4 linked regions of the Homo sapiens genome follow. Changing the gene in region 4 together with the main gene of any one other region gives a genetic interaction. Each region holds a gene or a part of one and is shown on either strand. Other genes may lie near its edges.

The links. A genetic interaction does not mean that the proteins touch.
Region 1: changes in RICTOR (region 4) and SEC24C together harm fitness less than expected from each alone (positive genetic interaction), as found in Homo sapiens cells (one large-scale study listed by BioGRID).
Region 2: changes in RICTOR (region 4) and DCAF7 together harm fitness less than expected from each alone (positive genetic interaction), as found in Homo sapiens cells (one large-scale study listed by BioGRID).
Region 3: changes in RICTOR (region 4) and IGF2BP1 together harm fitness less than expected from each alone (positive genetic interaction), as found in Homo sapiens cells (one large-scale study listed by BioGRID).

Annotation. Positions count from the first base shown.
Region 1 is NC_000010.11:73,747,372-73,750,871, reverse strand, and holds part of SEC24C (protein transport protein Sec24C), read right to left. Parts: intron 1-3,500. UniProt on the Homo sapiens protein: Component of the coat protein complex II (COPII) which promotes the formation of transport vesicles from the endoplasmic reticulum (ER).
Region 2 is NC_000017.11:63,556,977-63,560,476, forward strand, and holds part of DCAF7 (DDB1- and CUL4-associated factor 7), read left to right. Parts: intron 1-3,500. UniProt on the Homo sapiens protein: Involved in craniofacial development. Acts upstream of the EDN1 pathway and is required for formation of the upper jaw equivalent, the palatoquadrate. The activity required for EDN1 pathway function differs between the first and second arches.
Region 3 is NC_000017.11:49,038,885-49,042,384, reverse strand, and holds part of IGF2BP1 (insulin-like growth factor 2 mRNA-binding protein 1), read right to left. Parts: intron 2,429-3,500; coding exon 2,294-2,428; intron 1,008-2,293; coding exon 885-1,007; intron 144-884; coding exon 8-143; intron 1-7. UniProt on the Homo sapiens protein: RNA-binding factor that recruits target transcripts to cytoplasmic protein-RNA complexes (mRNPs). This transcript 'caging' into mRNPs allows mRNA transport and transient storage.
Region 4 is NC_000005.10:38,941,900-38,945,399, forward strand, and holds part of RICTOR (rapamycin-insensitive companion of mTOR), read right to left. Parts: exon of another isoform or gene 3,170-3,500; coding exon 3,014-3,169; exon of another isoform or gene 2,671-3,013; coding exon 2,547-2,670; exon of another isoform or gene 2,335-2,546; coding exon of another isoform or gene 2,302-2,334; intron 1,073-2,301; coding exon 934-1,072; intron 480-933; coding exon 405-479; 3' UTR 1-404. UniProt on the Homo sapiens protein: Component of the mechanistic target of rapamycin complex 2 (mTORC2), which transduces signals from growth factors to pathways involved in proliferation, cytoskeletal organization, lipogenesis and anabolic output.

The DNA.
Region 1 (3,500 bases), on a different chromosome or scaffold from region 4:
CAGAGGCACAAGAATGTAGGGCCTTCCTTTGATCACCATACTCTCAGTCAATCCAAGACTGCCTGATATTCTTACCCTAGACAACAAGCCAACCCTTTTAAGGAAAAGATCTTACTCCAGAACTCAGAAACTTGGAGCATATATGAAAAAGGAGACTCAGAAGATGACCAAGTAATATACGGAACTAGGCTGCAAAGAAAGGCATCTCTTGGGGAGATTATTCTGCCACCTTCTTCTTCATTCATTCTGCTTACACTAACTATATCCTTTCATCCACTTCTAAGTGTGAAAACATGAAACAGCACGATTCAGGAACGTGTTCCTATAGATCGGAGACCTTGTTTCTGCCCAACAGTTCAGTAAGGACAGCTGGCCTGTCCTCCCATCAGCATTGCCACCTATGTCCTCACAAAAGCTGTACTCCATCCTTCCTATTCCTTAGAACCACCACCAAAGCTACTTACACTACCCTTAGCCATTCTTCACATATGAAGTTCAGGGAGAAAGCAATTAGTTACTTGGCACATCACTTTTGAAATGTGGATGACCTCTGTTCAAAGAATGCTTTTCTTTTGCTCTGCCCTCAGTAGAGATTAGACATTATAGAACCTGCCTACAGGAACATGATTAGCCTAAACTTGCTCACCAACCATGACAGAATCAGATATGTTTTCCTCTAACAAAGCTTTCTCATGAGAGAATGCCAAACTCGAGCACTTGACAAAGCAGAGGTGGACTCTGTCCAGCCAAAGTCTCAGCTTAGAATTAAGGTTCTTCCAAAGACCTGGGGCCTAATCTCATCACAATATTTTTTCCCCACAGTTAAAATCATCATACTTCATTATTTCCCAAATCTTACCAGTACCTCCTTGATGCCTTCTTTTTTCCATATCTCTTTATGAAAGCATAGAGTTTGGCATACCCTAAATCATCGGCTAGCCTAAGCAAAGATCTACTGTTAACTATTTCCAAAAAGCCCCTCTGGAGAATCGGTAGAGTACTAGCTGCTCTTCTTGAGAAAGTAAGGTAAGGCTGGACGTGGTGGCTCACGCCTGTAATCCCAGCACTTTGGGAGGCCAAGGCAGGTGGATCACGAAGTCAGGAGTTCGAGACCAGCCTGGCCAACATGGTGAAACCCTGTCTCTACTAAAAATATAAAAATTAGCCGGGCGTGGTGGCATGTGCCTGTAATCCCAGCTATTCGGGAGGCTGAGACAGGAGAACTGCTTGAACCCGGGAGACAGAGGTTACAATGAGCCAAGATCGTGCCACTGCACTCCAGCCTGGGTGACAGAGTAAGACTCTGTCTCCAAAAAGAAAAAAAAAAAAAAAGAAAAAGAAAAGGTAAGGTTAAAAGCCAAACACTGAACCTAGAACAGCATCAGATTAGTATTATCTTATTACCATGACATTACAGAGCATCTAAGAAGCAGAGGAAACTCAAGCAAAGGAAAAGGATGGATATCAGAAGACATGAGACGCACCAAAAGTCAGGCACACAAATATCACACTTTTCACCCCCATAAACTACACTGTCCCAGGGTCATTCATACATAAGAATCATCAGTCCAACAAGAGGCTTTCTCAACATATATGACGAATAAATTATTTCAAGGAGACTACAAGTCAACAGGAAATATTCGGTCCTGGTCACAGGATCTAGAGGGGTGTGGACCACAACCCTTCCATTTAGCTCTGAACAATGTGACCAGGTAAGGCTGCACAAGGTGATACCCACAGGAAGTGAACAGTCAGTGAACCTGGGAGATGTGTTCCCACTAGATGGCTTAAGGCAGAAACACAGTACCTTATCTAAAAACAGGGAAGACAGCTGGGCGTGGTGGCTTACGTTTGTAATCCTAGCACTTTGAGAGGCCGAGGCAAGTGGATCACCTGAGGTCAGGAGTTCGAGACCAGCCTGGCCAACATGGCAAAATCCCATCTCTACTAAAAATACAAAAAATTAGCCAGGTGTGGTGGTGGGTGCCTGTATCCCAGCTACTCAGGAGGCTGAGGCACGAGAATCACTTGAACCTGGGAGGCAGAGGTTGCAGTGAGCTGAGATTGTGCCATTGCACTCCAGCCTGGGTAACAAGAGCCAAACTCCAGCTCAAAAATAAAAAAGAAAAAAAATAAGGCCAGGTACGGTGGCTCACACCTGTAATCCCAGCATTTGGGAGGCTGAGGCGGGTGGATCACCTGAGGCCAGGAGTTTGAGACCAGCCTGGCCAACATGGTGAAACCCCATCTCTAATAAAAATACAAAACATTAGCCGGGTGTGGTGGCACATGCCTGTAATCCCAGCTACTTGGGAGGCTGAGGCAGGAGAATCACTTGAACCTGGGAGGCGGAGGTTACAGTAAGCTGAGATTGTGCCATTGCACTCCAGCCTGGGTAACAAGAGCAAAATTCCATCTCAAAAAATATTAAAAATAAGGCCAGAGGTGGTGGCTCATGCCTGTAATGTCAGCACTTTGGGAAGCCGAGATGGGTGAATCATTTGAGGTCAGGAGTTCGAGACCAGCCTGGCCAACATGGTGTAACACTGTCTCTACTAAAAATACAAAAAATGCCGGGCATGGTGGCGGGAGCCTGTAATCACAGCTACTCTGGAGGCTGAGGCAGGAGAATTGCTTGAATCTGGGAGGCGGAGGTTGCAGTGAGCCGAGATTGTGCCACTGCACTCCAGCCTGGGCAACAGAGCGAGACTGTCTCAAAAAATAAATAAATAAATAAATAATAAAATAAGTAAAATAAAATAAAAAAACAGGGAAGGGGCCGGGCGTGGTGGCTGAAGCCTGTAATCCCAGCATTTTGGGAGGCCAAGGCTGGTGGATCATTTGAGGTCAGCAGTTCTTCAAGACCTTCCTGGCCACTGGTAAAACCCCATCTCTACTAAAAATACAAACAGTGGCCAGGTGTGGTGGCTCACGCCTGTAATCTCAGCATTTTGGGAGTCCGAGGTGGGTGGATCACTTGAGGTTGGGAGTTCAAGACCAGCCTGACCAACATGGAGAAACCCCATCTCTACTAAAGATACAAAATTAGCAGGGTATGGTGGTGCATGCCTGTAATCCCAGTTATTCGGGAGGCTGAGGCAGGAGAATCACTTGAACCCAGGAGATGGAGGTTGTGGTGAGCCGAGATCGTGCCACTGCACTACAGCCTGGGCAACAAGAGTAAAACTCTGTCTCAAAAAAAAAAAAAAAAAAAAATACAGGCCAGGCACGGTAGCTCACGCCTATAATCCCAGCACTTTGGGAGGCTGAGGCGGGCAGATCACAAGGTCAGGAGTTCAAGACCAGCCTGGCCAAGATGGTGAAACCCCCATCTCTACTAAAAAGACAAAAAAATTAGCTGGTGTGGTGGTGGATGCCTGTAATCCTAGCTACTCAGGAGGCTGAGGCAGAGAACTGCTTGAACCTGGAAGGTGGAGGTTGCAGCCAAGAGGGTGCCACTGCACTCCAGCCTGGGCGACAGAGAGAGACTCTATCTCAAA
Region 2 (3,500 bases), on a different chromosome or scaffold from region 4:
AAGATCTTGCCACTGAACTCCCGCTGGGGTGACAGAGCGAGACCGCCATCTCAAAACCAAAAAAACAAAACAAATGGAATCAGCACAATAGCTGTAGAAAGATGCTATTAGAAAGGATGGGGGGAAATGGAAAATAAGTGGCAGATAAAGTACCCATACTAAAAAGATGTCTTTAGCTTGGTTGAAAAATAATTGTCAGTCCTACCACTGTGAGTTCAAAGAACTTAAGAAAATACAGAACTTCAAGCAGAGATATAGAGGATTGGGTAAAATAAGGCATGGCAAAGAGAAAATATAACATCAGCTGGCAGAGCACACAGGAAAGTAGTGGAAGAGAAAACTAAAATTATCACAGGATTAAAAGCCACATTGGAAACAGAATAAAGGCTGGGCACAGTGGTTCACTCCTGTAATCCCAGCTACTTGGGACACTGAGGCAGGAGACTTACTTGAACCTGGGAAGAGGAGGTTGCAGTGAGCCGAGATCATGTCACTGTACTCCAGCCTGGGTGATGAAGTGAGACTGTCAAAAAAAAAAAGAAAGAAAGAAACAGAATAAAGATGAACACACAGTGCTGAAAACAGTAAAGGTTAGGGAGGACAGATTGAAAAATGAAACTGAAGAAAACAATGAGAACATAATAGATGCAGAAAGTAAAAGAGATCTGACGTAAGTATAATTGGTGTCCCTCAAGAAGAGGACCAAAGAAATGAAACAAACTCAAATATATGGTTAAAGAAGAACTTAGAAGTAAAGATTTGAAGTGATAAGTTCAAATTGGCATGATTTGAACTTGCCAAAGATTTGAAGTGATAAGTTCAAATTGGCATGAAGTGATAAGAAAAATTGGCACTGAACAGTTGGCACTGAAACATTTCCTAGGAAAATTTCTTTTTTAAAAAATTTATCTTATTTTTCGTGTGTTTTGTTTTGTTTTGAGACAGTGTCTCACTCTGTTGCCCAGGCTGGGTGCAGAGGCATGATCCCAGCTCACTGCACTCTTGACCTCCTAGGCTTAATCGATTGTCCCACCTCTGCCTCCCGAGTAGCTGAGACTACAGGTGCACACCACCACGCCCGCTAATTTTTGTATTTCTTGTAGAGGCAGGGTTTTGCCATGTTGCCCAGGCTGGTCTCAAACTGTGGGCTCAAGTGATCCACTAACCTCAGTCTCCCAAAGTGCTGGGACTACAGGCCTGGCACAGAGCCTGGCATCCCTAGGAACATTTCTATGTTTTAAGGATGAAGAAAGAATTATTTGGACACCCAGACAAAATGATCAAGTCCTCTTTAAGAGGGGAAAAGAAATTAGGCTAGCTACATTTGATGACAGAAGGCCATGGAGCAATGTCTAGGAATGTACAAATACTGTAGATTGTGCTGCTATAAATACTTGGGGATATACTTAGGCATATGTAAGGTTTATGTGGAAATAATAATGCTGGGGAACACAAAACAATACTCGAAAAATGGGAAGGTATTCTCTTTTCTTGTATAGTAAAGCTTGGTATCCTAAAGATGTCAGTGTCCCTAAACTTAATGTAATCCCTGTTTAAAATACCACAGTTGTTTTTTCTGGAGACAGGGTCTCGCTCTGTCGCCCAGGCTAGAGTGCAGTAGTGTGAGTATAACTCACTGTAACCTCAAACTCCTGGGCTTAATCAGTAGGTGTCTCACTATGTTGCTCAGACTGGTCTTGAGCTCCTGACCTCAAACAGTCCTCCTGCCTGCCCAACCCAAAGTGCTGGGGTTACAGGCATAGGCCACCATACCTGGCCAAAAATACTCCAGATTTTTAATAATGGTTTTTTAGAACCAGGCAAACTGATTGTTTCTACAGATAAATTTTACAAACATGCACACATTGTCAAAAAACTTCTGAAAAGGTGGACTAATGATGGATATTAAAACATAATGCAAAGATATAATAAATAAGATCGTTTGATACTCTAAGAACTGATGTATAAACAGAGTCTAGAAATGAACTCAGAATACAAAAAGAAATGTAGTCTGTGCTAAAGGTGATAGGAAATGAAGAAAAAATATTTTTAAGGCCAGGCACAGTGGCTCACGCCTGTAATTCCAGCACTTTGGGAGGCGGGGGCAGGCAGATCACGAGGTCAGGAGTTCGAGACCAGCCTGGCCAACATAGTGAAAGCCCGTCTCTACTAAAAATACGAAAAATTAGCCAGGCATGGTGGTGGGCACCTGTAATCCTCGCTACTTGGGAGGCTGAGGCAGGAGAATCACTTGAACCCAGGAGGTGGAGGTTGCAGTGAGCCAAGATTGCATCATTGCACTCCAGCCCGGGTGACAGTGTGAGACCCATATATATATATATATGTATATATATATACATACATATATATACGTATATATATGTATGTATATATATATGTGTATATATATGTATATATATATGTATATATATGTATATATATACGTATATATATATGTGTGTGTATATATATATATATATATTTTTAATAATTGGTATTGAAACCAGAAAAAAAAATTGGATCTCTACCTTAAGCTTTGTACCAGCCGGGTGCAGTGGCTCACACCTGTAATCCCAGCACTTTGGGAGGCTGAGGCGGGTGGATCGCCTAAGGTCAGGAGTTTGAGACCAGTCTGGTCAGCATGGTGAAACCCTGTCTCTACTAAAAATGCAAAAAGTAGCCGGGCATGGTGGCAGGTGCCTGTAATCCCAGCTACTCGGGAAGCTGAGGCAGGAGAATCGCTTGAACCCAGGAGGCAGAGATTGCAGTGAGCCGAGATGGCACCATTGCACTCCAGCCTGGGCAACAGAGTGGGACTCCGTCTCAAAGAAAAAAAAACCTTGTACCAGAATTCCAGATAAATGGAAGAATGTAAACATATAACTGTAAAACACGGGAGAATCTTGGTGTGAGAAAGCCATGAAAGTAGAAGTAAACTATATAAAAATAAAATCTCTGTAACAAAACCAAAGTCAAAAGATAAGTGACAAACTGAAAAAATACATGTAATGTCCTAGACAAAGAACAAATCCCTTAATAACTGCATATAAAGATCTGCAAATCACCAGGAGACCAGTCACCCAGTAGAAAAAGAGAAATAGATAGGAAGAGTTTCCAGAAAGGATATGTAAATGATTCTTGAACGTATGAAGAACTGAACCTCATAAGAAAAAAAAAAAATGGAGTTTCAGCTAGATTAGGAAAAATAAAAAACCGTGGTAATCTACTGTGTGTGTGTGTATACACGTATGTGTAGCTTTCCCATGCAGTTGCTATCAAAATTTAAATTGGCATTATTTTCCACCTGGTAGTTCCGCTAGTGGTAATTCATCCTACAGCTATACTCATGTGGTTGAAATGACTAAAGTGCAAGGATATTCATTTTAGCATTATTTGTAAAAGAAAAATATGAAAATATTATTATTAGGGAAATTGTTGAATAAATTATGCTACCTCCATGCAGCTGTTAAAAGAATGAGCTAGCTTTTCATATACTGATA
Region 3 (3,500 bases), on a different chromosome or scaffold from region 4:
CACTCACGCTCATGGCAGCCACATCATTCTCATAGGCCTCCCGAACTTTCTTCATTATTTCCTGCTCGGCCCTGCAACAATTCTCGATGGCCCCCTTCACAGTGATGGTCCTCTCAGGGTTGTAAAGGGTAAGGTCTTGCAACCTGGCAGAAAGAGCAGAGTTGTGTCCTTTCACTGGCAGGCCAGGACCAGGCCCCGGCAGTAACAAAGACGAGAGGCCAGCTGAGTCACAGGCCCACCATTTCTGCAGCCTATTCAACTTCTGGCAAATAACTCTGCAACCCCAGTCTTTGGTGTTCCCAGTTTGTAACCAGGGCAGGGGGTAAGATGGAGGGAGATGCCAACACCTAACTCAAACTCCTCTGTTAGCAATGGATCCAATCTCAGATTATGGTTGTGCCTCCAAGTTTCCCCATTGATTCTACATAATCCATGTCCTATACCTTTTTGGACAAGAGCAATTACTTTGCCCACAGGTTAGTCTCTGATGAAACGAAGCACACTGCTTGCAGGAGCAGCCCACCACAGACAGAAAAGGGCCAAGGTCACTTCTCACAGTGACAGACAAGCCTAAAGCCCTGAATCCCTGGCTCCTAGCTGCAGGCTGTCCACGAGCCACAGGGAAAGAGGGCTGTGAAGTGGTTGGACGTGGACTGTAGAGGCAGCACCTTACAACACCCCTGCCCCATATGGCAGTGGGAATGGGCAGATCCAGTCCTTACAGGGATTTTTTAAATGCTCTTTACCACTTCGACTGTTTTTCTTCAAGAGGCAGAAGGAGCACCCATTTTAAAAGAGCACATATCAAGGTTCCATGATGAAATACTGACCCTGGCCCCCATGCATCCCCCACTCATAAACAGGGAAATAGAAGAGAGCCTTACGAGGAGATGGTGATTTTTGTCTCGGTATCTTGCTCTACCTTCTTCAGGTTCCGTCCTTCCTTGCCAATGAGACGCCCTACAAAGTTATTATGGGCCAGGATCTTCAGGGGAACCTCGTCAGCCCTTGGGAAGACAAAGGAAGAAGTGGAAGACAAGAGTTCCTTCAATTGTGGGCTTCATGAAGACTCAATCACCATGCCACCCCAGACTTGGCATTTCCAAGTAAAACATCTCAAAACTTATCAAACTGCATACTTTAAAAATATGTATGATTTATTATACATCAATTGAACATCAATAAAGCCAATTTGTTTTATTTTTTGAGACAGGGTCTCACTCTATCACCCAGGCTGGAATGCAGTGGCACTATCAAGGCTCACCACAGCCTTGACCTCCTGGGCTCATGCGATCCTCCCTTCTCAGCCTTCCGAGTAGCTGGGACTATACGCACAGGCCGCCACGTCCAGCTGATTTTTCTATTTTCTGTAGAGGTGAGGTTTCACTATGTTGCCCAGGCTGGTCTAGAACTCCTAGCCTCCAAAGTGCTGGGATTAGAGGCATGAGCCACCGTGCCCAGCCAATAAAGCTATTTTAAACAGCACAAGTGTGTAAAGGAACATGTGTAAGCAGATTCCTTGCATCACTGTTTTCTGATAAGGAAAAGTTTAAAACAATTTAAACACCCATCAAGAAATAGGAGATTGATTACATGAACTATGAATAGCTATACTGTGGAATTCTATGCAGCTATAAAAATAATGCGGTCTGTCCATATGTACTAATATATGTGCTGATACAGAAAATGAAAAAAGTATAGAACAGCCTGTTCAGTGTGATTCTCTCTGAGCTAAAACACATGTGCATACACGCACAAGTGAATACACACAGGCACACATATCCGTACATGCAGGCACGCAGACACAATATACACACACCTGTGAGTGCACAGAATTTCTAGGAGGTCATACGACAGGAATAAGAAGGGATGGGGTGTGGTGGCACACGCCTGTAATCCCAGCTCTTTGGGAGGCTGAGCTGGGTGGGTCACTTGAGTCCAGGAGTTCAAGACCAGCCTGGGTAACATGGCGACACCCCATCTCTACAAAAATCACAAAAAACTAGGCAGGCGTGGTGGTGCATGCATGTTGTCCTAGCTACTCAGAAGGCTGAGGCGGGAGGATCCCTTGAGATCCAGAGGCAGAGGTTGCAGTGAGCTGAGATCATGCCACTGTACTCCAGCCTAGGTGACAAAGTCCTGTAAGAAGAAAGATTTTATTTCTCAGTTTACATCTTTTTGTGCAATTGCTGACTGTATTTCTTATATGTCTGTATAAAAGCTTGAAAGTTGAGTTGGGGAGGCTCAACTGGACTAGCAGACCCTGAAGATCCAAGAAAAGCTGGAGACTTACGTTTTGGTGTCCTTAGCCTCTTTATGCATAATCTCCAAGATCATCTTACAAGCGGAGGAGCAGCCCTCAGGGGTGGAGTGCACACTGATGGCTTTTTCAGCTGCACCTGCGTTCTCCTTCCTATGCACGTCTATCCTGGGGGCCACAAGGACAAGGCTGGTTAGTTGTCCCCAGTGATACCAGTACTTCAGGCTCCCCACCCCACTACCCCTCCTCAGTCAAAGGCATAGAACCTGCTCTTCTTGAAACAAGGACAATCAAGTACAACTTTGGGAAGGGCAATGAAAGGACTGGAGAAATATGACCCGTCTGTTACTGTGGATTCTGTCTCAGACCAGCAGTGTCTCAATCCACAGGTGGTTGGTGGCCAGGCACGGGAGCTCACGCCTGTAATTCCAGCACTTTTGGAGGCCGAGGCGGGTGGGTTACTTGAGGCCAGGAGTTTGAGACCAGCCTGGCCAGCATGGTGAAACCCCGCCTCTACTAAAAATACAAAAAATTTAGCTGGGTGTGGTGGTGCACACCTGTAATCCCAGCTACTAAGGAGGCTGAGGCACAAGAATTGCTTGAACCTGGGAGGAGGCTGCAGTGAGCTGAGATCACACCACTACACTCCAGCCTGGGTGACGCAGTGAGACTCTGCCTCAAAAAATAAAATAAAAATAAATAAATAAGCAAGCAGTGGTTGGGGACAAGAACACAGCCTATGACACAAATGCAGGGGTGGGAATTACCAGCCCACAGCTCCAAAGCTGCATTTCCGCTTGAATTCCGTATGTCCCCCTTGAAACAAATATAAAGAGAAGACACAGTGCCCCAAACTCAAAGTAAATAACAAGATTTACTATGATAAGGACATAATATGACCTGTTCTTTGCCACTGAGTACACTGATCAGATATAAAGATTAGAGAAAAGGCCGGGTGTGGTAGCTCACGCCTTTAATCCCAGCACTTTGGGAGGCTGAGGCGGCCGGATCACGAGGTCAGGAGTTCGTAACCAGCCTGATCAACATGGTGAAACCCTGTCTCTACTAAAAATACAAAAATTAGCTGGGCATGGTGGCACGCGCCTGTAATCCCAGCTACTCGGGAGGCTGAGGCAGGAGAATTGCTTGAACCCGGGAGGCAGAGGTTGCAGTGAGCTGAGATCGCACCACTGCACTCCAGCCTGGGCAACAGAGCAAAACTCTGTCTCAAAAAAAAAAA
Region 4 (3,500 bases):
GGCATCTGTATTATTTACCCTAAAAATCATTCAGAAATAACTTGTGAAGGGTGCTTCTGCATATCCCATTATTGTTCCACTGTCATTATGCTTTTAAAATGAAAGAAAATAGAAAACCTATGTAGGTATTCAGTGCTTGGCTCTTGCATACAATGGTAACTGAAACTCTTAAAACTGTGGTAATGAATCATGAACCCCTCAAAAGGCTCAACAAAGGAGAGAAGGAAGTTGTTTTGGTTAGGAAAGTCAGCAGTTCCAACTGTTCATGTACCAGTAACTGCGGAACAGTGTACAGAAGATACTCCTGTCTTTGCTGCCTAGTCAGTCGTATTTTCTGAGGCTTTTAGGAAATCCACAAATATGAATATATATAGTATGTATCTATATCCATCATAAATATGAGGTCAGGATTCAGCAGATGTATCAACTATAGGTTGCTTTGGTGGTGTTGCCAACACAGCCTCTGCTTCTTCATGCATCTAGGGAAAAAATGGTGTATCATCAATTACTTTTATAAAAACAGATGATATAACATATTTATATAAATATCTAATTTTTTTTTTTTTTTGAGATAGGGTCTTGCTCAGTCTTCCCAGGATGCAGCACAATGTTGCCATCTTTGTTCATTGCAACCTCTGAGTCCTGGGTTCATATGATCCTCCCACCTCAGCCTCCCAAGTAGCTGGGAATACAGGCAGATGACACCAACCTCGGCTAATTAAAAAAAAAAAAAAACTGTGTTGACACGGTCTCACTATGTTGCCCAGGCTGGTCTTGAATTCCTGGGCTCAAGCAATTCTCCCGCGCTGACCCCACAAAGTGCTGGGATTGTAGGCATGAGTCACCACACCCAGCTATAATCTGTATTTTAATTCAATTCAAACACAGAATTATTCTTGGAAGATAAATTTGAGAAGTACTAATCATACTTACTTGTAGAAACTGTACATCTTGAAATAATTCTTGTATGAACCTCCGACACGGAAGTCTGAATGTGCAGTGTGACAGCAAATGGGAAACCTCAGAGTAAAGGCATATGTCATCAAATGTTTGAGGATACTTCTCCTTAATTCTAAAATAAAAGATTATGGTGTGATGAAAACTGTAATCATGATGTATCTATTTTTCCTCCAAGGTATCACTTACTTTAAAAATAGATTTCCCTACAGATATGGATTAGATGGCATACTTGGGGTGATGACTTGAGAATATAAAATATTAAATATTCCTGTCACACACTTAGACATTCTGAGTTTGGGTTTTTTTTTAAAAAAAATGATTATCAAAACCTGAATACTTCTTGTAAAATTGAAGCATTCTTTTTTATTGGCATGAGAAATTGCAAAATATATTTATCAGCCTAGGATGATTAAAATATGTTCCAAATTAAGTTTTAAAATAGAAATACATCTTTAAAGTTAAGTTATTAACATCCCTGACTGGGCTATTTCTTTGGATACTTCAAATAGCAGCTTTTAGCTAGGAAAGCACCTCAGAATCAGCTGTGAGTTGGGTGAGTGACCAGTTAAGGGCCCGCTCCCAGAGCTCCCAGCCCAGAGGTCTGCTGTGGGACCCTGATACCTATGTGGGACCCCAATACCTATATCACCCTTAAAAAAAAGCCCTACAGCTGGCTGGGCACGGTGGCTCATGCCTGTAATCCCAGCACTTTGGGAGGCTGAGACAGGAGATCACCTGAGGTCAGGAGTTTGAGACCAACCTGGCTAACCTGGCGAAACTCTGTTTCTACTAAAAATACAAAAATTAGCTAGGTGTGGTGGTACACACCTGTAATCCCAGCTACTTGGGAGGCTGAGGCAGGAGGATTGCTTGAACCCGGGAGGCAGAGGTTGCAGTGAGCCGAGATTGCACCACTGCACTCCAGCCTGGGTGACAGAGCAAGACTCCGTCTCAAAAAAGAAATACAAAATACAAAATAAAAAAGCCCTGCAGGAGACCCTGAGGTGCATTTCTTTTAAGAACCACTGCTTTAAATAATAAGAAAAAAATTAAACCAAGAAAATATGACTTGTTACATGTAAGCCCACTTTCCTCAAACTTTTTGGTCTCAGGACTTACTTTCTTAAAAATTACTGAAGACCCAAAAAAGCTTATTTTTGTGTGGGTTACAGCCACCATTAACTACTATATTAGAAATTAAAATTGAGAGAATTTCCTAACATGCATTAATTTATTTTAAAAATAAATCCATTACATGTTAACATGTATTTTAATAAAAATAACTGTATTTTCCAAAAGTAAAAAAGTGAGAAGAGTGGCATTATTTTACATTTTTTGCAGATCTCTTCAAAAGTCTGGCTTAATAGAAGATAGCTGGATTCTCATACTTGCTTCTACATTCAATCTGTTGCCATATGTTGTTTTGGCTGAAGTATTAAAGAAAATCTAGCCTCACACAGGTATGCAATGCAGTTTAGAACTACTGATGTAAGTTAACTAGCCTAACTTTTGAAGTATTTCAAGTATCTTTTCTCGACTTAAAAAACAGAATAAACAAATAATACTCATGCACATAGTTTACTCACGTTAAAAGCCCAGTCTCATGACATTTAGTTGAAACTGAACTACTCAAATTAATGACTAATCTTAGAACTTCTTTGCGAAGGAGTATACGGCACATTGGTGTATCATCTGGAATTGTTTTAACACCTGAAAAGATTTCAGGGAGAAGTTAAATATTATCTATGTCACAATAAAATGATTAAAACTCATGAAATTTATTTTTAAACTTCACCTAAAGACCTAGAGATCAATTACACATGATCTACCAATCATTTTGGGAGCAAAACTCTAATAAAAGCAGATAGCTAAGAGGCTCTATGTCAGTGGGTGATATAGGTGCAATAATTAACAGTGTTAAATTGCTTCACTAAAATGGACGTATTACTGTTTTGAGACAACTTTAATTTACAGTATTTACGAAAAACAAAACAAAACCAACTAATCAGAACAGTTTTACTAATAATGATTGGATTTGAATCTGAAGACTCACCTAGTAACAATTCTGTGCTTTTGGTGCTGCTAGCTGAGCCTTCTTGAGACACCCCATCACTGCATCCAGAAATCCCCGAAAACTTAGAGGGAACCACTTCTAAAGGATTATGGATAGTCTGCTCACACCAATCAGAATATGGAATATCTTGAAAGTCTGAAGAAAAAAATAATTATTTCAATTAAAGCACCATAACGGCTTAATTCCTGTGCTTACATTGCATGCTAAAAAGAAATAATATAAAATAACATCTTCTCTAATTGTATGCAATATACCAAACACTTCCAAAACTTTTTTCCTCATAGAAAATGAAAATAACTACAGCATGCAAAGGGCCTGGACAGGGCTGTTCACAGTGGAAAAGACCTAATCCAGGGATCTGTCAGACTCAGGCCCCACTGTGACCTGGAACCGTGAGAGGATCAGCATCTCAGCATAACATAATTTGGCATATCAGTGTGCTGCAGCTCACCAGCTGGGAAACTCT